6 separate regions of the Homo sapiens genome follow, and all the other regions are linked to region 1. The links come from fine-mapping of genetic effects on gene expression. A gene starts in region 1. Each other region holds a variant in brackets. All regions are shown on one strand. Distances are between the middles of the regions. Region 1 holds the start of CYP1B1 (cytochrome P450 family 1 subfamily B member 1). Region 2 overlaps LOC102723739 (a long non-coding RNA gene). Region 3 overlaps CYP1B1-AS1 (CYP1B1 antisense RNA 1). Region 4 holds the start of LOC107985871 (a long non-coding RNA gene). Region 5 has its middle 24 kb from the start of CYP1B1-AS1. Region 6 overlaps LOC107985871 (a long non-coding RNA gene).

What was found.
Region 2: its variant is fine-mapped to the expression of CYP1B1 in whole blood (INTERVAL, PIP 0.95).
Region 3: its variant is fine-mapped to the expression of CYP1B1 in whole blood (TOPMed, PIP above 0.99).
Region 4: its variant is fine-mapped to the expression of CYP1B1 in whole blood (TOPMed, PIP above 0.99).
Region 5: its variant is fine-mapped to the expression of CYP1B1 in whole blood (INTERVAL, PIP 0.96).
Region 6: its variant is fine-mapped to the expression of CYP1B1 in whole blood (TOPMed, PIP above 0.99).

The regions. Positions count from the first base shown.
Region 1 is chr2:38,074,181-38,078,268 of GRCh38, forward strand. CYP1B1 (cytochrome P450 family 1 subfamily B member 1) reads right to left here and starts at 1,971. Exons shown (of 3, transcript NM_000104.4): 1 at 1,600-1,971; 2 at 166-1,209. The coding sequence starts at 1,208. RefSeq lists a promoter at 1,952-3,327, cis regulatory regions at 1,966-1,973, 2,894-2,923, silencers at 1,967-2,056, 2,967-3,086 and an enhancer at 2,794-2,992.
Region 2 is chr2:38,207,405-38,211,492 of GRCh38, forward strand. All of the region lies in intron 1 of LOC102723739 (a long non-coding RNA gene), which reads right to left. Among named protein-coding and RNA genes, the nearest start is that of CYP1B1-AS1, 78 kb to the left of the region's middle. The variant T/C (reference allele first, on the strand shown) is at 2,122.
Region 3 is chr2:38,173,236-38,177,323 of GRCh38, forward strand. All of the region lies in intron 2 of CYP1B1-AS1 (CYP1B1 antisense RNA 1), which reads left to right. Among named protein-coding and RNA genes, the nearest start is that of CYP1B1-AS1, 44 kb to the left of the region's middle. The variant C/A (reference allele first, on the strand shown) is at 1,799.
Region 4 is chr2:38,148,532-38,152,619 of GRCh38, forward strand. All of the region lies in intron 2 of CYP1B1-AS1 (CYP1B1 antisense RNA 1), which reads left to right. It overlaps LOC107985871 (a long non-coding RNA gene), which reads right to left and starts at 1,635. Exons shown (of 4, transcript XR_007086290.1): 1 at 1-1,635. The variant C/T (reference allele first, on the strand shown) is at 1,974.
Region 5 is chr2:38,104,839-38,108,926 of GRCh38, forward strand. No RefSeq gene overlaps it. Among named protein-coding and RNA genes, the nearest start is that of CYP1B1-AS1, 24 kb to the right of the region's middle. RefSeq lists enhancers at 2,057-2,796, 2,797-3,536. The variant T/G (reference allele first, on the strand shown) is at 1,757.
Region 6 is chr2:38,126,855-38,130,942 of GRCh38, forward strand. All of the region lies in intron 2 of LOC107985871 (a long non-coding RNA gene), which reads right to left. Among named protein-coding and RNA genes, the nearest start is that of CYP1B1-AS1, 2.2 kb to the right of the region's middle. The variant G/A (reference allele first, on the strand shown) is at 1,953.

The sequences.
Region 1 (4,088 bases):
CCCTCACTGTGAGTCCCTTTACCGACGCGATCTTGGTTTTGAGGGGTGGGGACCTGGAGCGAAACCCCAAACCCGGGGCCCTGCTTGCAAACTCAGCATATTCTGTCTCTACTCCGCCTTTTTCAGAGGAGAAAAGACCTGGCCCACGCCTCCCAGAGGCTTTACCTGGTGAAGAGGAGGAGCAGCCACTGCAGCGCGGTGGACAGGGTGTCCTGGCTGGCGCCGAAGATGTCAGTGATAGTGGCCGGTACGTTCTCCAAATCCAGCCGCGCGCCACCACCGTGCGAGTCCCCGGCCGCCTTCTTTTCCGCAGAGAGGATAAAGGCGTCCATCATGTCGCGGGGGGCGGCCCCGGGCCGAAGGCTTTCGCAGTGCCTCAAGAACTTGTCCAGGATGAAGTTGCTGAAGTTGCGGTTGAGCTGCTCGAATTCGCGGAAAACGGTGCGCACCGGGTTGGGGAAGTACTGCAGCCAGGGCATCACGTCCACCAGGCTGCCCGCGCCCACCGTGCGCCCGAACTCTTCGTTGTGGCTGAGCAGCTCACGGAACTCGGGGTCGTCGTGGCTGTAGCGGCAGCCGAAACACACGGCACTCATGACGTTGGCCACGGCCACGACGGTCAGCGGCCTCGGGTCGAGGAAGGCGCCGTCCGCGCTGCCGCGCACCAGCAGCGCCACCAGCTCGCGCGCCTCGCTCAGCACGTGGCCCTCGAGGACTTGGCGGCTGCGCGGCTGGCGCGTGAAGAAGTTGCGCATCATGCTGTGGGCTGCGCGCCGCTGCACCTTCCAGTGCTCCGAGTAGTGGCCGAAAGCCATGCTGCGGCCGCCGGACACCACACGGAAGGAGGCGAAGGCCGGCCGGTCGGCGAAGGCCGAGCCCTGCTGCACCAGGGCCTGGTGGATGGCGCGCTCGCCATTCAGCACCACTATGGGGCAGCTGCCCAGGCGGATCTGGAAAACGTCGCCGTAGCGCCGCGCCAGGCGAGCGAACGAGAGGTGAGCCGCCTGGCCCACCGCCGCCGCGTTTCCGATCAGTGGCCACGCAAACGGGCCCGGGGGCGCGGACCGGAGCTGCCGCCTCCGTTGCCTCAGCAGCCGCTGGCCCACATGCACAGTGGCCAGCACCGACAGGAGTAGCAGGAGCGTGGTCTGCTGGATGGACAGCGGGTTTAGCGGCCAAGGGTCGTTCGGGCTGAGGCTGGTGCCCATGCTGGGGACAGAGAGGAGAAGGCGTGACACTCAGGGGTGCAGAGACAGGAGCGGGCGCCCCACGCCCCTACCCCAGCCTCTGGGGACTGAGTGCCGTTGGGTGGAGAGGTCGGAGCTGACTCTCTGGAGAAATGGCCGAAGACGCCCCTTCCCATCCCCAACCCACTCTCCCTTGGAGAAGAGAAGGGGCGTGTTTCCACCTCGCTGTAACCCAGCGCCAAACCCTTCCCCTCCCCGCAAGGCGCGTAACGGTTCCTGCAATCTGGGGACAACGCTGCGGGCATCGAGGCGGTGGCGCTTGATTTCCTTTAAAGTACCTACCACGCCACCCGCTACCTGTAATAATCCATCTGAAGAGGTCGCCGGGCAGCGCCTCGGCAGACAGACTGACCTGCGGGGAGGTGCGGTTTCCAGTGGCGCGGGACAGCCGGCTCCGAGAAGGAACTGGGACCTTTGCCTAGGGCAAGACGTCAACAGGAACCCGCAGGCCCGGCCTGGACACCTGCTGCCCTCACTGGAAGCTTTAACTCCCACTCGAGTCTCTTGGCGTCGTCAGTGCCAGGAGCGCTTGGATTGGGATGGGGACGGAGAAGGGTGCCTCGCTCGCCGAGCCCCGCTGCCCTTGGGGACCTGGCAAAGTCGAGGTTTCCTCACAGCGTTGAGATTGAGACTGGGGGTCGGTGAGTGGCGTCAATTCCCATGCCCTTGCGGCTCTCACAACTGGAGTCGCAGAAGCGCTCGCTCCCACTCCCACTCCAGAGTCAAAGCGCGCCATCCCGCTCCTCCGGGTTTTAAGGACTGGGTAGAAGGAGGGCAGCGCGACCTGGCAGGGCGGGGCCTGCGGGGGGCGGGGCGCGCCGCACACCAGGCCGCTTTGACCCGGACTCCCGTCCAGGCGCACCGGCCGGCCTCGGAGCTCTACCAGCAGGCTTTCATGGGAGCGGAGGTGCCCACGTTTCCATTGTGCGGTAACCGCGCTTCATCACAGCCACCTCCAATCGAGGCCGCACGGTGTCCCCAGAACCACGCTCGGTACAACCTGCCCCGGCCGCTGCGCTCGACTTGGGAGCGCGCCCCGCCCCGAGCGCACGACCTCCCTTCCCTCTCCGCGACTTGAGCTTGCTTCCCGGAAAGCCAGTGTAGTGGCAGCGGTTTGCCTCACAGCGCCCCTGGTTGGTTGTTTAAATTTTATCTTAGGTTCTCGCAAACAAATTGCCACCTCAGTGGAGGCTCTTTGGCATGCTAAATTTTTTCCAGTTCTTGCGGCGAGATCAGGAATCCCTAAAAGTAGCCGCTCCCCCGCCCCGGGGCCCCGACAGTGCTTGGGCACACAAAGGCTCCTGGGGCGCAGCTGGCCCTGAGATTTCCCGCGTAGAGGCCACTCCAGGTGGCGCCGCCCGCTGGTGGGCGCGGGGCCGCCCAGGCTGCGATGGAAGCCGTTGGCGCAGGGCGGGGAGCCAAGCTGGGGCGACTGGGGGGGCCTGGGGGAGCTAGCGGGGCGGGACCCGAGCGGGGCGGAGAGTGGCAGGAGGAGGCGAATCTCCGCGCTCCGGCGAACTTTATCGGGTTGAAGTTTCTGCTGTCGCCTCCCCTTTGCGTGCGGAGCTGGGCTTTGCGTGCGCCGCTTCTGGAAAGTCGGCTCCAGTCATATCCCTGGGCGCTGCCTGCGGCCGCTCCTCCCGCGCTTCTCACGGCACCTGACACGCGGAGGCGGCGGCCGAGGGTGGGGTGCCGGCCACCACCACCCTTGGCGTGGGGTGCCGGCCGCCACCACCCTCGGCTGCGCACGCACAGTCGCGCCTGCCAGGCCAGCGAGGCGGACGCTTGGGCCACCACCCGCAGGCCGAGCCCGGGCGCGTATCGCCACCTCGCTGCGCACCGGCGGCTCTGTGGTCTTCCTGGGCGCGCTTGCGGTCGCGAAGGGGGCCCTCCCTTTATAAGGGAAGCCGGAGGCGCTTGGGCGGGGGTGGCTTCCCCCGCCTGGCGCGCCCTTTCCTACATGCTGATGCATAGGATTTTCAAGACAGCTAAGAGAACAAGGACTTCACGAGGCGGGGGGAAGGGCGAACTCGAGGGAAGAGGTGGGATGTATCTGGTTAACCAGGTAGGAATTGTACTGGCTTCATCAAAGGATAAATATAAAAGTGATAGGTTCACCAGGGACAACCCTGCACTTTGAGCTCCACTCGCGCTGCGAATCTCGTGCTATTATTGACCTGTTTACAGATGAATAAACTAGGGTTCAGAGAGGTTGCGTGACTTAACCCAGGTCGCGCAGCCATCAAGAAGTGGAGCCAGGGCTTGAAGCCACCAAGTCCCACTCCAGATCCTTCACATAAGTTTACACGGAAGAAAATTGCAGATAAGAGGCCCAAATGCCTTCTTTCCTGCCTCCCTTAAAAAAAAAAATGCACGTGGGGCTAGGCGCAGTGGCTCACGCCTGTAATCCCAGCACTTTGGGAGGCTTAAGCGGGCGGATCACTTGAGGTCAGGAGTTCGAGACCAGCCTGGCCAACATGGCGAAACCCCATCTACTAAAAATACAAAAGTTAGCCGGACGTGGTGGTGCACACCTGTAATCCCAGCTACTCGGGGATCAGGGGGGAAGGCAGCAGAATTGGTTGAACGTGGGAGGCAGAGGTTGCAGTGAGCAGAGATTGCACCACTGCACTACAGCCTGGGCAGCAGAGTTTAAGTGAGACTCTGTCTCAAAAAAAAAAAAAAAAAAAAAATCAGCTGGAAGAACTTTTTAATTATTGTTTTTGTTTTCATAATTGAGAATTCTGAGAATAGCAGAGAAGAAATAGTATGCTAACCCTTTGCAATTAAATTGCTTATGAGGGAGGCCAGGGGAGTGTGCCTCATAGCTGACCCTGGAAT
Region 2 (4,088 bases), 130 kb after region 1:
CAAAGCAGCATTATTCATATCATCCCAACATGGCAAACCAACCAAAATATCCATCAACAATAAAATGGACTTTATAAATAGTGGTATGTTCCCATAATGGAATATTACACAGCAGGGGTCCCCAAACCCCAGGCCACACAGACCAGTACCAGTTTGTAGCCTATTAGGAACCAGGCTGCACAGCAGGAGGTGAGCAGTGGGTGAGCAAACATTACCACCTGAACTTCGCCTCCTGTCAGATCAGTGATGGCATTAGATTCTCGTAGGAGCACAAACCCTATTGTGAACTGCACATGCAATGGATCTAGGTTGCATGCTCCTTATGAGAATCTAATGCCTGATGATCTCAGGTGGAATAATTTTGTTCCTAAACCATCACCTCCCCCAACCCACTGTCCATGGAAAAATTGTCTTCCACGAAAGTGGCCCCTGGTGTCAAAAAGGTTGGGGACTGCTGTTATACAGTGAACAAACTACCTCTACATGCAAAAACATGGAACATTACAAACATAATGTTGAATGAAAAAAGATAGTCACCAAAGAGCACAAAAGTTCAACTACATTTATATAAAGTTCAAATACAGGAAAAACTAATTCATAATGTTAAAAATTATGATAGTGCTTACTATTGGGGTGAAGTGGATAGTGACTGGAAAAAGCACAAGAGGTGTGTCTGAAGTGCTGGTGATGTTCTATTTTTTTTATCTTGGTGCTGGCTACAAGAGTGTGTTCGCTTTATGAAAATTCCTCAAATGTACACTTATTATTTGGTACATTTGTCTGCATTTATGTTATATGTCAATAAAAAATGTACCCTGTAAAATCATGTTTTATGGTTAGATGATGCAGTTGAAATTGAAAATGATGGGTTTTGTGGAAATACAGATGTTCAGCCAACAGGAAGAAAAGTGACGTATACTTGGAGTTGACAGGATATTACTGGAGATAAATATGTCATTCCTTACAACAGTCACAGATAATGATAAAGGCAAAGGGAAGAGAAAGCTAAAGAAGGAATCTTGGTGAATGTTTACCTGTAGGTGTTGGAAGAAGAAAACAAAGAGATGGAAAAGGACCAAGACATGCATGCACATAGAAGCCAGGCTAAAGAATGCTTCAAAGAAGAGACAGGGGCAGCTAATCATCAACACAAAAGCAGCACAGTGGTTAAGAGTGTGGGCTTTGGAGCCAGAATTTCTGGATTCAAATCTTCCAATTTTCATCTATAAAATGGGGCTATTAGTTGATACTACTTCATAAAGTTAATTCATTTGAACAGTGGCTAGAATGCTCAAAAAGATGAGAAGTATAAGAAAAGATTGCTGGATTTAGTAGTTAGAATCAGGCTACAAAGTATGGTGAGAAAGTAGATGCAAAAAGAGGATTTTAATGAGCAGCCAGTGTCCATCCAAAAGGCCACAAATTGATTCTCCAGCTTTCTAATATGACACTAGAGTATGTCCAACCTTTCTAGTTCCGAAGTACTCACTTGTGGAGGCTACAGATTGGCTTAGGTCCCCATTAGGAAGGGACCTCAAGTTATCTGATCCAGAAAGAAACATTGGTTTTTTTCAGTTTTCTGGGAAGTTTGAATGCAGATATACTCACCTTATAGAAGTAATGCCTGGGGTGAGTTTCTGTTTCTCAGGTTAAGAAGTTTCTCCAATAAAATTCATCTCAGAAAAGAGAGAGGAGGAGGAGTCCTAAGTAATTATCCATAGAAGGCCAACTAACAGTTCTATCTAAAGTTTATTTTCCAGTGGTGCCACTGATTGGAAGGCCACTGGCTGAAATGCACGTGATGTAACTCAGTATTGCAAGTTGAGTCCTTCAGGGTTTCAAGTAAGGATGAGACTGGACCACAACCACAGAGAACTAATGTAAAATCCAAAAGATATGACATTGTGAAGAAATTACTACACTGAACACTGAGCATAAATTTCTATGTTCCTTGTAGAGAGTGCCAAACAGTATATCACAAAATTCATTTAAAAATATTCTTTGACTTAAAAATAATGTATCCTAAAAAAGGATACATTTATCCTAGAAATTTATCCTAAGGAAGAAGTTCAAAAGAGGCCAAATAAAAAGCTATATGTAATTTTGCAGTGTTGGTTCTAA[T/C]AGAAAAAAGAAGTAGCAATAATAACCAATAGAAAAAAAGTTTTTAAAAATAGGCCTGAAAACAGCGTAAGTATTAGTGGCTATTAAAATAGTAATTATGAAGTCTATATAAACACATAGGGAAATGTTTATTATATCTTAAAATATAATAAATGAAAAAACAGGAAATAAAAAGGTACATAGACTGATTACTATTTTGTACAATATTGTATACATGTTGACAAGAAATCAAAAGGAATATATAAAAACAAAAAAAATGTCAGGAATAGATAATGAGTGGATAGTTTTTTCTTTTCTCAAAAATGTGTCAAGACTCCTGCTTCCAAACTAACACAGGAACAGAAAACCAAACACCACATGTTCTCACTCATAAGTGGGAGTTGAACGATGAGAACACATGGACACAGGGAGGGAAACATCACACACTGGGGCCTGTCATGGGGTGGGGGGCTGGGGAGGGATAGCAATAGGAGAAATATCTAATGTAGATGATGCGTTGATGGGTGCAGCCAACCACCGTGGCACGCGTATACCTATGTAACAAACCTGCACGTTCTGCATTTGTATCCCAGAACTTAAAATATAATAAAAAGATTTTTTTTAAAAATGAACAATTGAAGAAATAAAGAAGACTCCTGTTTCCAGGAAGATGAAACAGATATGCTTTTCTCATTCCTCTAAGTACAAGTGAAAATGCTGGATAGTATATATAAAGCAAACGTAAGATCACTTTGAAAGGTGAAGAGAAGACAGTAGAACAGCTAGAGACAGTGATACCCATAGAAAAATATGGTGAGTTCCATGGGTTTTCTTTCTGCCTTATATACTCCAGACTTGGAACTAAAGAAGTAGGTAACCTAGAAATGCCAACAAACACAGACCAAAAAACACCCCCAACAAAAGCTTACTCTCCTCAAGCCAAAGGACTAAGAAAAGAGCCGCATAGAAAGACAAAACAACTTTTAGATAATTTAGACAATAACCACTCTACCCTAGCTAAACCTCACAAAAATAAACAAACAACAACAACAACAAAAACCTGTGAGCCCATCCTCACCCACACAGGCAAGGGCAAGTGAGAGCCTAGATTTCCACCCTTGCAAGGCTCTATCGAGGCACTCCAAACCTCTTCCAGGGTGGTATTAGAGAAGGCCAAGAAGGCAACTAGGACTTTCATCCCAGCTGGCCAATAACAACCCACCTTCCTCCCTCATGGTACCAGTGGACAGCTTGTAGAGAACATGAACTTCTTCCAGTCCCACCTGGCAGTAACAAGGCATTTCTCCCCATAAGGTGGTATCAGTCAGGTAGAGAGGTGGGACTTTAATCATCACCCAGCAGTAATGAGGCTACCCTTACCACAGTGTCAGCAGAGACAACATGGAGAGCTGGAACTCCCTCTGCTCAGCAGTAATGAGAAGCCACCCTACCAAGAATTCATAAAGACTGAGTGGGGAACCTAGACTTCTATCTCTACTTGAAATTAACAAAAGAGCACTCTGCAACCTTTCCCTGACACAGTGACATCAGGGAAAGCCAGCCAATATTTTGCCAGCTAAACCAAAATATTGGAATAAAATCCAGAGTCTGATAATATAAAATGTCCAGATTTTAACTTTAACATTTACTCATCCTACCAAGAACTGGAAATATCTCTAATTGAATTTTTAAAGATAAACAATAAATGCCAACACCAAGATGAGAAAGCTGTTAAAATGTTTTCGACAAAGATTTCAAAGTAGTCACATTAAAAATGCTTTGACAAGCATTATAAACATACTTGAAATGAATACAAAAATATAAATTCCCAGCAAAAAAAAAAAATGTCAGGAAAGAAGTAAAAGAAATAGAGGAGAAGCAAATGAAAATTTTAGAACTAAGAAATAAAATAACTGAAATAAAAAGCTCAGGGGATGGGCTCAACAGCAGAATGGAGAAGATAGAGAAAAAAAATCAGTGAATTGGAA
Region 3 (4,088 bases), 99 kb after region 1:
CCCAGAGAATCTCTTGAACCCAGGAGCCGGAGGTTGCAATGAGCTGAGATGGCGCCACTGCACTCCAGCCTGGGTGACAGAGCGAGAACTTGTCTCAAAAAAAAAAAAAAAAAAAGGGAGAAAGAGAAAAGCAAATGCAAATATCTTCAAACGTCATAAGAAAAGGCAAAAGTGAATCCGATAAATATATTTTAAAACAATAATAAAAGAGGCATTTTGCTGACAGATAAATTCATGAAACAAGACTGACTTTTTTGAATGCCATTCATAGAACTGCCAGGTCAGCTGTGTAGTGTGAGGTATATTTCAATGCAAAATACTGAAATTATAAAAACAGGATTATGCACACAAATGTTTCAAGCCTTTATAATTTTTTTAAGTCCAAATGGCATAGGTCCATTTATAAAATATTTTCTGAATTTATATTATGATTTAAACTAGCAATATCCTATTAATTAACTTATTTAAAATTCATAAGGAGACAAGTTATTTAAAAAAAAAAAACACTCTTGAACTGAGTAAAAAATAGCACGAAGTGAGGTTCAGCTCTGGGGAGAAGGGAAGTTGTGCTAAAACTTTTCAAAATGGAATTTAACCTCAGACTTTTAAAGCATCACTTTCTTTAAGGATTCACGGCTTTCCTCCCACACTGGTCTGGGGCCAGTGTCTGGAGTAAAGTATTGCTACTCCTAAATGAGATTTTAGAAAGTAGCATAGTTTCTGAAAGGAGCAGCCACTGGAAACCAAAAACTTTCTCAGGGTACTCAAACGGTTTGAAGAGAACTGATATTTGAAAACGGAAATCCTTCCATTTGTGACAACATGGACAAACCTGGAGAACATTATGCTAAGTGAGATAAACCAGTCACAGCAAGACAAATACTGCCTGATCTTTTGTATATGTGGAATCTAAAATAGTTACTCTCCTAGAAGCAGAGAGTAGAATGGTGGTTGTCAGGGCTGGGGTATACAGGAAATGAGGAGATGTTGGTCAAAGGGTACAAAGCTTCAGCCATGCAAGAGGAGTTAGTTCTGGAGACCTAATATACAGCATAGTAACGACAGTTAACAATACCGTATTGTAGACTTGAAATTTGCTACAAGGGTAGATCTTAAGTGTTCTCACCACAAAAGAAAAGAGGCAGCTATGTGAGGTGATGGGTAAGTCAACTAGTTTGATTGTGGTGATCATTTTCCAATGTATACATATATCAAAACATCAAGTCATATACCTTAAATACATGCAATTTCTATTTGTCAGTTATGCCCCAATAAAGCTGAAATTTTTTTTTTAAATGAGAACTGATGTTTGCATCCAGTTGCTGCTAAAGGCACAAATTTTCTTTAAAAACTATTGAATGATTTTCCAGCTCTTACAGACATACTGGGAAGAAAAAAGTTAAAAACTATTTGAGAAATTTGGATTGAACTACCTCATCCTGTATGAGGTAAGGCCAATGTGCAATCTTGCATTGCTAATCACTCAAGCAGAGTGCTCAGAAGCTGGGAAACAGGCTGCGGTTAAGAACATTGCTTAAGGAAGAATAATTAGATCCTTTCCGTGTCTCATAGCCACAATTTTTTTCCAGCTTTGGCTGTTGTTTGAGCAAGACCTTGTGTATCAAACATTGATCTAGCCAAGTGGCTTAGTGGAGAATTTGCTCAAATTGGTTTTTTAGTATCTTGTTGGCAGGAGGGGAAATGACTGCTTGAACGTTTCAGCCTTAATGCTGACATGTGGTGACTTGAAGCCAGGTGAATGAAGGTTCCTCCAGCTAGAGAGGTAAGATGAACATGC[C/A]GGACCAGGAAGAAAGCAGGTCATCATGTTAGACAGGTGCAATTATGTGCAGAGACTATAAAAGAAGAGAAAAAGACATTTAGTCATCAGAGAGCAGCCATTCAAGTAAGACCTTGAAGGAAAGGGAGGGTGAATCAAACAGAAAATATAATGTAAGCAAACGCACAGAGGCTATACTGTGGAGAGGATGTGGGGAAGAGGGAAGTGGTCCATTTGACTGGAACAGAGGGTAAATTTAAGGCAGTAGGAGGTCATAAGACTTATGGAAAATTTGGAATGCCAAAATGGGACTGTTATGTGTTAGGTTGATACTGGGTGGGGGCACTGAGGATTTTTAAAACGTGATCAGGGCTGCCTTGTTGAAGGTAAACCTAGCGGTGGTAAGTCAAATGAAATGGAGTCATGAGAGAACAGGTGGTACTAATCACTACCAGTACTGAGTGCTTTGCAGATGCTACTTCATATACATAATCTGATTTAATTCTGATAGCAAGAACCGTTATTAGCCCACTTTACAGATGATAAAATTGAGGCTTAGGGTGATTAAACAACTTGCTCAAATTCACACAGCTAAAGCAGAAGAGGCAGTGTTTTAATCTAGACACAGGTACCTGCCCTTAATCACTATGCTTGACAGCTTCTTAAGCTAGAATGGGTGGTAGGTGACCGGGGTCTGAATTAGGAATTTGGAGGTAGTAATGGAAAAGAGGGATCAAATTCTTAGAGGTAGGATAGGCAAGACTTCACCAACAGGAGCCTACGGAGGTCTGTGATTTGGTGGCTGCGTGAAAAAGAAGAATGATACTGTTACTAACCTAAATAAAGAAACCAGAAGAAAGACTTGGCATCGATTAAAAGATTATTAATATGGTTTTAGTTATATTGACTTTGAAATGCCATGAGTAGATCCAGTGAAAATGTCCATCCAGCCATCGGAAATGTAGTTTGGTTGCTAAAGAGGGGAGATGGAGCTAGAAAGAGAAGCTGAGGCATCACGTGCAAGCAATAGAGGGGCAAATACGCAAGGGAGGGTGGCAGAAGAAAATCATCCCAGGTGTTTCTTTTCTTCTTACTCAGCTCGGAATAGAGATGACTTCTGAGTTTTTATCTACTCCCATTCAGGAATGAAATGGAGAAATGTAGGTCAAAATTTTACAAAATGGTCATGTAGAATAATTCTCTGACTTCCCATCTCTGGGAGGAAGAGAGGCAGCTTTAGTAGAAGTGTGAAGATTCTAAGCAAAATTTAAGTAAAATTATTAATTTTTTTAGAGATGGAGTCTTGCTATGTTCCCCGGGCTGAATTCAAACTCTGGGCTCATGAGATCCTCTCACCTCAGCCAAGTATCTGGAACTGCAGGTGTGCCTCACCACTCCTGGCTGTCTAACTAAAATTATGAAGGGCAACCCATTATCTCTTTACTTTCTCTTGCCCCAGAATAAGACAAGAATGCCGAGGCCTGGTCAGTATCCCAGGGTACCACCGCCAGTGCTGGCCAGAGCAGGCTCTGAGAGGCTAACACAGGCCACAGAGCCTAGGGCCTTGTTTTGGAGGGTGAGGTGAGGCTTAAAGCTGGTAGGATAGGCGCCCTCTGAGATTCGCCATCTGAGAAGTCAGTCAGTTCTTTATTAAACCATTCTAAACAACAGAAAGTGCAGTGGGTGGGCAAGATTCCACTGCTGAATTCTTCAGCAGGCCCTGCAAATGAATGACATGGTGTCAATGGGAGGGAAAGTGAAGCAATAAACACAGATGGTGTTTGTGCAATCTCATCTGGGTCAAGGAAATCACCTCATCACTCTTCTTTGATGGGCAGATTCCTATCTCTTAGTTTACCATTTTCCTTACTAATTCCCTCAGCTCCATCCAATGTGCATTCTTGTGTCAAATTGCATGTTCATGAGTATATTACATGTTCCTGTTGTGAGTATGCAGGGGTTACCATGGGATGACCCCTGTGCTATGAACTTGGAACCTCAAGAAATTAGATTGCCTTTTAAGAATGAATCAGAGAAGAAATACAGGAAACCACTTTAAATAACAAATGTGTTCCTAGGATAGCAAGATTTGACTGGACCCTGACTGACGAGATTACTATACCTAAAGAAAGAACGCATTCGTGAGAAGGAGAGTTCTGCTCAGTTATGAACAAAGCAACTGCATTCAATAAATATTTGTTGAGTACCTACTGTGTTCCAGCAGAGAGCTCGCATTCTAGCTGGGGAGACAGAAAACAAATAAGTGCATTTATAATTGGATGTCTGCTTGTGATATGTGTGTATCCCAGGC
Region 4 (4,088 bases), 74 kb after region 1:
AAGATATGTCTTGGTTTCATCTGTGTTAAATAAACCTGCACGATGTTACAAGCTGGCATTGCTTCATAAGCTTGACCTTAGCTTTCAAATAGGACCTCGATCATTGCTCAATGACCAAGTCACAAAGTTGCCTAATGATATTGGCCCACAGCCATGTTATTGCAAACATGGCAATGACTGGCCAAAACCAGGTGTGCTCCTTACATTTCTGCCCGGGTGATACTCTCAGAGAGCTCCTCGCCATGAGAACTAAGTCAGTCTCCCAGTGCCAGGAGCCAGGACAATTACGGGGCTTTCCCTATTGTGTGTTCTTGCTGCTAACCAGCTCCCAGGCCTAGGCTTCTGAGAAACAGTGTAGGCACACAAGCTGCAGATCTCTCCTCCCTTTATTCTCTCTCCCCTTCCCCAAACCCACAATAGCCTCTACCATAGTGCTTATTCTTTTGACCTGTTCTGATCTGCTAGCCTAACTATTCCCCAACACCTTTAGGAAGATAGGTCTTCCCTGACCCTCAGTCTGAGGTCTAGAAGCCCTTCTGCCTTGCCTCACAGGCATCTTCCCTCCTCCCCCGTCCCCTAGACCAGTCCAACAGCAGCCCGTGCAGCCTCTGAAGTCCACTCCCAGTGCTAGCTGATGGGAACCCCATGGGCTCCTGTCTGCTATACAAATGGAACAGACTTTCTTCAGAGCCAACCCCAGCTGCCCCACTGAAGCTGGTTGCCACAGTGATTTTCAGTCTCATACCAGATTCTGATCTCTTCTCTTGCCCACCTTTGGTGCTGCAGAGTGGATCATCTTGTTTTATACTCAAGTCATCATTAAAATTTATAGAAAAAGAGAGAATTTAAAAAAAAAAACACTAAAAAATCACCTTGTACGCATATACCTCAGAAGATCTTTGGCCTAATGGTAATCTGTGACATTAAGGCAAATAACCAAAAATATGTAATTTTTCTATTTATTTCTTTGAGTGGGCTCAGTTGCAGATATATGAATCTGACCAGGGTCCTGATCACTTCCTGCTCCCAAAGACCACCCTTTGAGCCTGTAAGATCCAAAGTCAACTCAGTGGATTAATGTGCAAGTCTAGCCTGAGCCAGTAAGACATGGTTCCCTCTAAGATGCCAGGAAAGGACCTAGGGCTTCCCTGGGCTGAGCTCTTAGGTAAGCCATGGCCTGGCCTGGCCTCTTAGAGGTTGTGCAAGACCAGCCTCTGTGATCTGCGAAGGCCCTGAGTCCCAGACATCGTCTCCAACACTGACCTAGATCCAGTGCCAGCAGGACAAGAAAGTCCCCTCTGCTTTAACCTTTACATGAAAAGAAACTTTGAAATGACCAATCCACATTTTTTTTGTTTGTTTTTTTCTGCTTTCCACAGCCCTTTTCTGTCTGTAAAACCAACCTCCTCTTCTTGGCTCATCAGAACACTCATTCTATTTTATGGAATAAAGTGCTGCCCAATTGTAGAATCAAAAATACAGCAAATTAATGTTTTTTATATAAAGTTTTTGATACATAATAATTACACATATTTATGGGGTATCTGTGATATCTTGACACAGCCATAGAATGTGTAATGATCAAATCAGGGTATTTAGGATATCCATCGCCTTGAACATGTATCATTTCTTTGAGCTAGGAACATTTCAAATTTTCTCTTCTGGCTATTTTGAGATACTCAATATGTTTTTGTTAACTATAGTCACCCTACTTTGAGGCTGAATACTAGCGCTTATTCCGTCTAACTATATGTCTGTACCTATTAACCAACCTCTCTTCATCCCACACACCCTTCATAGCCTCTAGTAGCTACCATTCTTTTCTCTACCTCCATGAGATCCATCTTTTTAGCTCCCACATATGAGTAAGAATATGCAATATTTGTCTTTCGGTGCCTGGCTGATTTTACTTAACAAGATGCCCTTCAATTCCATACATGTTCCTGCAAATGATAGAATTTCATTCTTTTTTA[C/T]GGCTTAATAGTATTCCATTGTGTGTGTGTGTGTGTGTGTGTGTGTGTGTGTGTATCACATTTGCTTTATCCATTCATCTGTTGATGGACACTTAGATTGATACTGTATCTTGGCTATTGTGAATAGTGCTGCAATAAACATGGGAGTGCAGGTCTCCCTTTGATATATTGATTTTTTTTCCTTTGGATAAATACCCAGCAGTGGGATTTCTGGATCACATGGTAGTTCTATTTTTAATTTTTTGAGAAACTTCCATAGTGTTTTCTATAATGGCTATACTGATAAATGAATTTAACAAGGTTGCAGAATACAAAATCAACATACATAATCAATAGCATTTCTATATACCAATAATTAACTTGCTGAAGAAGAAATCAAGAAAGTAATCCCATTTAAAATAGCTATAAAAAATTAATTGTCTAGGAATAAATTTAATCAAATTTAATAAATTCTTTCCGATGAAAGAAATTGAAGAAGACACAAACAAATAGACGTTCCATGCTCATGAATTGGAAGAATTAATATTGTTAAAATGACCATACTACCCAAAGTAATCTACAGATTCAATCTCTTATCAAAATACCAATAACATTCTTCACAGAAATAGAAAAATAATCCTGAAGTTTATATGGAACTACAAAACACCCCAAATAGCCAAGCAATACTGAGTAGAAAGAACAAAGTGGTAGGCATTACACAATCTGACTTCAAAATATACTATATTTGGTTACATATAGTAACCAAAATGGCATGATATTTAGTATAAAAAGACATATAGACCAGTGAAACAGAATAGAGAACCCAGAAATAAATCCACGTATTTATAGCAAACTATTTTCAACAAAGGTGCCAAGAACATACACTGGGGAAAAAATACTCTCTTCAATATACGGTGTTGGAAAAACTGGATATCCATATCCGGAAGAATGAAATTGGATCCCTATTTCTCACCATATACAAAAATCAACACAACATGGATTAAAGACGTAAATGTAAGATCTGAAACTATAACACTACTAGAGGAAAACACAGGAGAAATGCTTCAGGACATTGATCTAGGCAAAGATTTTATGGCTAAGACCTCAAAAACACAGGCAGCAATTAAGATCTTTAAACCAAATTTGTTGTAATTTTGTCTTATGACACTAGCAACACAAGTGAATTTAGAACCATTTGTCTGGTCACTTACCGTAGAATTAACCACCTTCAAAACATGTAACGACTTTACCACTTAAACCCTTACCATTTTGTTATGGTCAGGGATACTGTGGGCCAGGTATTCAATAAGGACACAGTAGAAATGGCTTGTCTCTGTTCCACAATGTCTTGGACCTTAGCTGGAAAGAAGCAAAGGCCAATGGTTACTTGATGGCCGGGAGCAAATATCATCTCAAGGCTCCCTTCCTCACAGGTCTGGTTCCTATGCTAATAGGACTCAAAGACGAGGATAGGTGACTCATTACCTACCCATGGCCTCTATACATGGGTTGGTGTTTTCACAACATGGTGGCCTAGGTATTCAGACTCAAGGCTCCAAGAACTAGTGTTCTAGAAAACTAAGAGGAAGCTGCGTCACTTTTTATGATTGAGCCTCAGAAGTCAAGCAGTATCACTTTCCCTACTCTACTGTTTGAACAATTACAAGCCCACTCAGATTCAAGTGGACTCCACGTCTTGATGAGGGGGAACTAAGGTCACAACGTAGAAGAGCACAGACGATAGGAGACACTGGCCATCTTTGGAAAATACAATTTGCCACTCATCATGTGTTAATGCACAGATGAGGAAGTGCTATCTGCTCTTCTCCCCTCCTCAGCTCACCCTGACTTCTGTGTTTCCAGTCCTGATTATTTATAACACATGTTCAATATAACAAGGATGTTTTGAAGCCCAAAGGAGTGAATCCTTTCCTAGCCTTTCAAACCAAGATAAGGAAAAAGTGGAAGAAGACATTAAGACATGCAGCTCTAAGGAACTATCCAAATTACACTAGGTAGATGCCCTGCAGATGTTTAACTTCAAGATTTCCAGAGGCCACGTGTGTGTCAGTATCAGAGAATCAAGTTTACATTCTCAATAAGTAGATGTTGAGAATATACAGCTGATCCCCACTA
Region 5 (4,088 bases), 31 kb after region 1:
CATACAGCTCTGTATTTTTCTGATCAGTTACAATTTTTAGGATCTAGTCTTTATCCCAGAGACCCAGATCTGTGTATTCTGTATTCTTTTGTACCCTGTGTTATTGCTTCACCAAGAGTATACTCCAGGTGATTTTTTTGTGTGTCCTTAATTTTGTCATTTTGTGGTCATTAATAACATCAGTTAACAATAATATTATTATACTGTCCACTACAATGTGCGTTTGTGAGCACTGGCAACAATTTAGCAGAACAGAATGAGTTAGATTCCCAATTGTGGTAGATCACGTGTAGTAGCGAACAGAGCACAGAAACTCCGGATCCTAATTCTTGATTTCCTGGCAGTGATACCTTCCCATTCCATTACATAAGGTATAAGTGGCAGAAGATCAGGGAGAACCACAGGGCTGTAAGATATTTTATAAGTTGTTAAATAAGGGGACACTGCTTTATTTGGGGCATGTCACTCAATCTCTTCAACATTGTGTTAGGTAGGTATCATGAACTAAATTGTGGCCACCCAAAACTCATACCTCGAACCCCGGGTACCTCAGAACATAATTGTATTTGGATATGGAGTCTTTAAAGAGGTAATTAAGTTAAAATGAGGTTGTTAGAGAGGGCTGTAATCTAATATGACTGGTATCCTTATAAGAAGATTGAAAACACAGATGTGCACAGAGCAAAGACCACGTGAAGACACAAAGAAAACAGCCATCTGCAACTCAAGAAGAGAGTCCCAGAGCACATTGTGATCTCTGACTTCTGGCCTCCAGAATTGTGAGACAATGAATTTATATCGTTTAAGCCACCAGTCTGTTGTACTTTGTTATGGCAGCCTGAATGGGCCAATACAGTGAGGTTCCCTGGAAGACTTTCAGATGGGGACTTGCATGCAAGAAGTTTAACAGGGAGAGCTCTCAAGAGCAACCCCCGGAGGGAGAGAGGGAGGAAAGGAAAATTGGGCAGAGAGAGAAGCTGACCTCTGATGCAGCTGCTACAAGGTTCTCAGCTGATCCTAGGGTTCTCAGCTGATCCTACAGGGTGTTCTGGAGCTGGGATGGCCCCGTAGAGTTGCCTGGAATCAAGGCAGGGCCCAGGGAGGGAGATAACCTTGGCAAAGGCAGCTTCCTTCAGCGGGGGAATTCCCAGTGAGGGACTCAATTGTGGCTGTTTGCAGTGGGCACTGGACAGCTGGGGAGTGAGTTTCTCCGCCCTGACGAGGGGTCTGGGTGACATCTCACAGCATCCATCGCAGACCTGCAGCTCCTAGTCTGCAGACCAGGATAAGCACAATGCCTGTGGTGCATTTCCCCGCAGGCGGCTGTGAGGAGCTAATGAGATAATGGATATGAAAATGCTCTGCAAACTGTGAAGACTATCAATATGCTGTTATGCATCATTCTCTGTTATTTGTTGCTATCCTGTCCTTTCACCTTCCCCAGGCCGGAATGATCACATTTTCTCTTTCCCTAGCTTTATTCCTGGGTCACTAGCACAGGGAAAAAATAAGAAGAAAAATCAGAGTGGAATTCTAAAAAACAAAGGTCCTGTGCTTTTCTGCCTAAAATATGTACAATCCTCAGTTGGCACTGTCAGGAATGGGGACCGCCCTCATGGAGAAGTGGCACTTCCACTCCTAGCCAGCCTCTGTGTGAGCTGGACTCTAAGGTCAGGAGAATGAGGAGGCCGTGAAGGTCTTGGCCGTCTCTTTTTCCCCTCATCTCTACTGAGACATAGATCGAGACAGGGACCCA[T/G]AAATCACCTTGGAGTTAAATCAGGGGAAAAAAGAAAAGCCCTCTCAGGCAACAGCATTTCACAGCAGCAACAGGAAGTTGTAGGGAAAAGAGAAAAGTCAAAACTCAAGTGAAAATCTGAGTCATGGTTCAGAGAGGCCACAAATACCTTTCTTATGGAGAGTCAGAAGAGGGAACACAGAGAAAACTGAGAGGTTTTTTTTTTGTTTGTTTGTTTTGAACTTTTTAAAGGAGAATTTGTTTTTAATCCTGTGAAGCTAGTAAACATCTCTTTAAAGAATGTGTGTGGTCACACAAGTTGAAGGGCTAGAAAATTACCTCCTCACAGCCCAGATGGTTTTAAGTGGGAACAGATAGGAAGGAGCGTGAGTTAAAGCTCCCACCCACACTACAGGACCCTGCTGTTCCAGCCGCTTTCCTCTGCCACTAGCTCAGGAAGAGCGAGGGCTGCCTCTCAGACACAGGGAGTTCCTGCAGGCTGACTTCAGGCACTCCAGAATGAGGTGTCCGTATTTTCCTAAGTGCTGAGGGTCACCCTACCTCCTCCTCTTTTATTAAGATTCTCTGAACCACTCAGAGAATACACAAGTTAAAAATAAATTACTTCGGCAGATAGTGAGGGTACAGAAGTCCTCGGTAAGGTTTTCCTTTTAATGAAAACCAGCCCCAAATACTTTTCCTTTCTAACAAAGAGCAGCCTGTGAAATCAAGCTACAGACATAGATGCCAGCAGAGGAATACTACCTGGGACTAGGCATGTTCAAAATGGCGGTTCCATCTTCTCTTCCTTTTTTTTTTTTTTTTTTTTTTTTTTTTGGTTAGTTAGTTTGTTTTTGTTGTTGTTGCTGTTGTTTGAGACGGAGTCTCGCTCTGTCGCCCAGGCTGGAGTGCAATGGCATGGTGGAGGCTCATTGCAACCTCCACCTCCCAGGTTCAAGCGATTCTCCTGCCTCAGCCTCCCAAGTAGCTGGGATTACAGGAATGCACCACCGTGCCCAGTTAATTTTGTATTTTAGTAGAGACGGGGCTTCACCATGTTGGTCAGGCTGGTCTTGAACTCCTGACCTCGTGATCCGCCTGCTTCGGCCTCCCAAAGTGCTGAGATTACAGGTGTGAGCCACCGCGCCCAGCCCATCTTCCTTTTCTCAGTGCCAGCCACGTGTACATTAAGGAACAGACAACATGGCGCGGGTCAAGTGGAAAGCTCTTTTGCATAGTAAGATGAGGGTGAGGTAGCCAGCCTTCCTCCTGCTATGTAAACATCACACCTAATCGAACTGATCTGTGGGCCCTATGTAAATCAGACACCGCCTCTTCAAACCTGCCTAAAAATTTGGAGAATTCCGCCCCAGCAAGTCTTTCCCTTTCAGAAGCCCCGCTCTCTCGCTAGAGAGAAAGCTGTTCTCCTTTCTCTTTCTTCTGCCTATTAAACCTGCGCTCCTAAAGGCCTCCTTTGTGTCCCTGTCCTAAATTTTCTTGGCGCCAGGTAACGAACCCTGGGTATTTACCCCAGACAACGAAGCCGCTTCAGAATGACAAAACAACAGACATGGGGACTTCTGGCAAACAATAAACCACAAATGAACAGAGAGAGATTAGAAAATAAATCTAATCACAGCAGAGGAGGAGGGGAGAAAATAGCTTCTCTTCCCAGAAACACAGGAGAGACAGAAAGCAGGCTGCCCTGTTCTGCGCCTGCTCCATTCTCCAGTAACATACCGTCCTGGTGTAGTGAGACTTTTCGCATTATAGGGCCCAACTAGAGATCCAGTCATTTTTACTTACGCTGTGAGCCAAGATTCTGAGTAAATGGGTTTATCTTGATTGCAGTTAAAGTATCTGGTTGGGCACATCCTAACATGAATATTATACCAACAATAAAAATCGTGGAAATGTGGGGAAATGTCCACGATATGTTCATAACTTAAAGTAGGTTAGCAGTGCATTGTCAACGTAAATAAAACAGTATATTGAGTGTGATTCCAATATTGAAAAACAAAATAAAGAGCACTAAATCTGCCAAGTTCAAAGACCAGAGTGCCAGATGCAAAATGTTTAATGTTTCTTTCTGTGATGGGATTATTTTTTTCTTTATATTTTTCTGTATTTCCTGATTTTTTTCTACAATAATCATGTTTCTACTGTAATCTGAGATATAAAACATTAGAAAATTTGGTCAGATGAGTTGTTCCAGGATTGTGATTATTTCTCCACAAACAGATGCTCCTCAACTGATAATGGGATTTTGTTCCTATAAGCCCATCATAAGTTGAAAATACCGTATGTCAAAAATGCACTTCATACACCTGACCTACTGAACATCATAGCTTAG
Region 6 (4,088 bases), 53 kb after region 1:
GGCAGAGGGTGGAACAGTTTGGAAAGCTCAGAAGAAGACAGGAAGATGAGGAAATGTTTGGAATTTCCTAGAGACTTGTTTAATGGTTTTGACCAAAATGCTCATAGTGATATGGGCAGAGATGGCCAGGCTGATGAGGTCTCAGATGGAGATGAGGAACTTATTGAGAACTGGAGTAAAGGTCACTCTTGCTATGCTTTAGCAAAGAGACTGGTGGCATTGTGCTCCTGCTCTAGGGATCTGTTGAACTTTGACCTTGAGAGATGATTTAGGGTATCTGGCAGAAGAAATTTCTAAGCATCAAAGTGCTCAAGATGTGGCCTGGCTGCTTCCAAAAGCCTAACTCATCTGCATAAACAAAGAAATGACCTGAAAAGGGAGGCAAAGCATAAAAGATAGATAGGAAAATTTGCAGCCTAGCCATGTGGTAGAAAAGAAAAACCCATTTTCTGGGGAGAAATTCAAGCCCAATACAGAAATTTGCATAAGTAAAGAGGAGCCAAATATTAGCAGTCAAGACAATGGGGAAAATGCCTATGAGGCATTCCAGAGACCTTTGGGGCAGCCCCTCCCATCACAGGCCTGGAGGCCTAGGAGGGAAAAATGGTTTCATGGGGCCAGGCCCAGGGCCCTGCTGCTTTGTGCAGCCTTGGGGCATGGCACCCTGCATCCCACTTGCTCCAGCTACAGCTGTGGCCAAAAGGGCCCCAGATACTTCTCAGACTGCTGCTCCAGAGAGTGCAAGCCACAAGCCTTGGTGGCTTCCATGTGGTGTTAAGCCTGCAAGTACAAAGAGGATGAGAGTTGAGGCTTGGGAACCTCCACCTAGATTTCAGAGGATGTATGGAAAGGCCTGGATGTCCAGGCGGGAGTCTCCTGCAGGGGCAGAGCCTTCATGGAGAATATCTAGTAGGGCAGTGCAAAGGGGAAATGTGGGGTTGGAGCCCCCACACAGAGTCCCCACTGGGGCACTGCCTAGTGGAGCTCTGAAAAGAAGGTCATCCTCCTCCAGACCCCAGCTTGCACTGTGTACCTGGAAAATCCACAGGCACTCACATCAGTCCATGAAAGCAGCCACAGGGGATGTACCCTGCAGAGCTGCCCAAGGCCTTGGAAGCCCACCCCCTCCATCAGCATGGCCTGGATGTGAGACACAGAGTCAAGATTATTTTGGAGCTTTAAGATTTAATGACCGTCCTGCTGGGTTTCGGACTTGCATGGGGCCTGTAGCCCCTGTGTTGTGGCTGAGTTCTCCTTTCTGGAAATGGAGTATTTACCCAATGCCTGTACTCCCATTGTATCTTGGAAGTAGCTAACTTGTTTTTGATTTTACAGGCTCATAGGTGGAAGGGACTTGCCTTGTCTCCGATTAGACTTTGGACTTGGACTTTTGAGTTAATTCTGGAATGAGTTAAGACTTTGGGGGACTGTTGAGAAGGGATGGTTATATTTTACAATGTGAGAGGATATGAGATTTGGGAGGGGCCAAGGGTGGAATGGTATGGTGGGGCTTTGTGTCCCTACCCAAATCTCATGTTGAACTGTGATCCCGAGTGCTGGAGGGAGGGTTTGGTGGGAGGTGATTGGATCACAGGGGTGGTTTTTAATGGTTTAGCGCCATTCCCCCAATTTCTTAGGAAATCTGCTTGTTTGAAAGTGTGTAGCATCTCCTTTGCCCCTCTCCTGCTGCTAATGGCCTGTTTCCCCTTCACCTTGTGCCACGATTGTAAGTTTCCTGAGGCCTCCCCCAGAAGCAGAAGCCTGTACAGCCCACAGGAACCATGAGCTGACTAACCATCTTTTCTTTATAAATTACCCAGTTCTTTATGGCAACGTAAGAATGGACCAATAGAGCACATCACTAGGGTAGCACAAAGGAGAGGGCCCAGAAGCAGAGGAGAGATAAACAGCTCATTTTTTTCATCTTTCTCAATGTTTCTTGCTCACTCTCT[G/A]TTGTTTGCATCCATTTTTCATTTCATCCCATTTCCTCTTTTTTCCCTTTCATTTCCTCATTTTGGGACAGCAAGAGGTCATGTTCTTGCTGCCAACAGTTACGACATTTTCAGTAGTCATGACAGCCACAAAGCCAGGGCTGGACTTGTCCAGAAGTCTGATCTGCAGCAGGAGGGAGTCTGTAGTGTGCAGGGGCTCTCCAGCTGTCACTTAGATCCCAAGCTGCCCCTTCACTTTTAATTTTGCTGATGGTGGCTTTTGTCAAAGGCAATTTAAAATTTAGGGCTAGGTAGTCTAATCTGTCAATCTTTTCTTTTCTTTGTGGTTTCCAGGTTTGTGTCTTACTTAGGAGGGCCTTCCCAATGCTAAAATTATATATATAAACAGATATACCACAATTGCCTAAACAGAAATTTGGGCAAGCTGGCACATTTGAAACAGGGCTGTCTCCTAAAATTTGGAACGTGTGGATAGCGTGCATATGCTTGGACTCTAGGACTTACTTTCTCTGGAAAAATCCGTCTAGCTTCCTCACTCACTGCCTCTGCCTCCCAGCTCCAGCCTAGCCATTTCATCTTATGGTGGGGGAGCACTCAGTTGCTAGGGCCAGAAACCCACTCAGAGTAACTTAAGTAAATGGGGATTACTTGCACAGTGATAACGGAATACTGTGAAACCCAGTTTGAAGAATTGCACCTGGATCACTGAAGGGCTAGAGTCTGGAGCTGCCCTTCCTCCTCCCTTTCTCTCAGTTATCTTTGTCTCTGCTCCATCCTCCCCCTTCGTCAAGCATACTCTGTTACCACATGACCTTAAATGACTGTCTAACTCAGTCCTTGAGCCCACAGAATCTTGTGAGTCTAGCACTCACAGATAAAAAAACACCCTCAGGCTTTCTGTGTCCCAACTCCAAGTTCTAGATAAAGATGTCTGATTGGTTAAAGTGGGTCATGTTTAAAGTGGGTCTACTCCCAATTCAGTTATTGGTGGCCAGGGCCATGAGCCACATGGTTGCCCCTTGGGGCAGTGGGCAAGGTAAAGTTCACAAGATGTGGTGGGGAGGAAATGACCACTGTAACTCTGTGGTCCAGTTCCCACACCCATATTGTGATTTTTGCTCCCCTTCAAGTTTGCCCTTGATGTTGTCTGTAACTGAATTCTGTTTTCTCCCATGGTTAGATTTATACCAGATCCAGGACCTTTTAGGGAGGGCTGTGGTCCTGTCCCCTTGGGGAGGCTCTGATCTAAGACTGCTCCCTCATGGAAATTAAGGAGAAGGGGAAAGCCTAGGCTACAGATGGAGAAGGATGAGTCATTCCAGCAGCCATGGCCAAGGGAACTCCTGGAGACGTAGGGACTGTTTATGTGGCCACTCACCATCATGCAGGCCCCCAATGGGGGTGAGGCAAGGAAGGACATAGAAAGACTGCTCAAGTGCATTTCTGGTTTTGCTTCCTACCGCAAACGACTCTTGTCATATGACTGGGGGAGTGTGGTGGTGGCAATAAGCAGAAAAATTTGAGTCTAAGAGTTGCTTTCTGAATTCTATTAGGGTCAATGTAGTCTAAAGAAGTTGACTTTTGAGGAAATAAATCTTTTCTGTTTTCTGCAGCCAGACTAAGGATTTAGTGGTGAATGGTAGGTGGGAACATAGTGGGACTCTGACTGCTCATACGGCCTCTGTGAGGCTCAATTCTTTTATCTCTAAAAGAGAGAACTGTCTACCTGGTAAGAGAAGATCTTTTGGGAGCCCACTAAACTCTAACATAATGTTATTATACAGTAAGTTCTCACTTAATGTCATCGACAGTTTCTTGGAAACTATAGCTTTAAGCAAAATGACATGTAACAAAAGCGTTTTTTTCTCATCAACGTTATAACAAAACGTTAAAGGAAGTGACATTATTTATGAACCTGCTGCATGTTGTTTTGCTTAAAGTTACAGATTCCAAGAACCTATCGATGACATTAAGTGAGGACTTACTGTACTAGTATCATTTATAACTTATAAAAATGACTTAATTAATATACCACAAAATATGCAGCTTTCATGTTAGAGACCAGATAAATATGAATATTTTGTTAAAATGTCTCTCTTCTCTACTTTACCAGTCTTCACCAACCTCCTCCCTCCA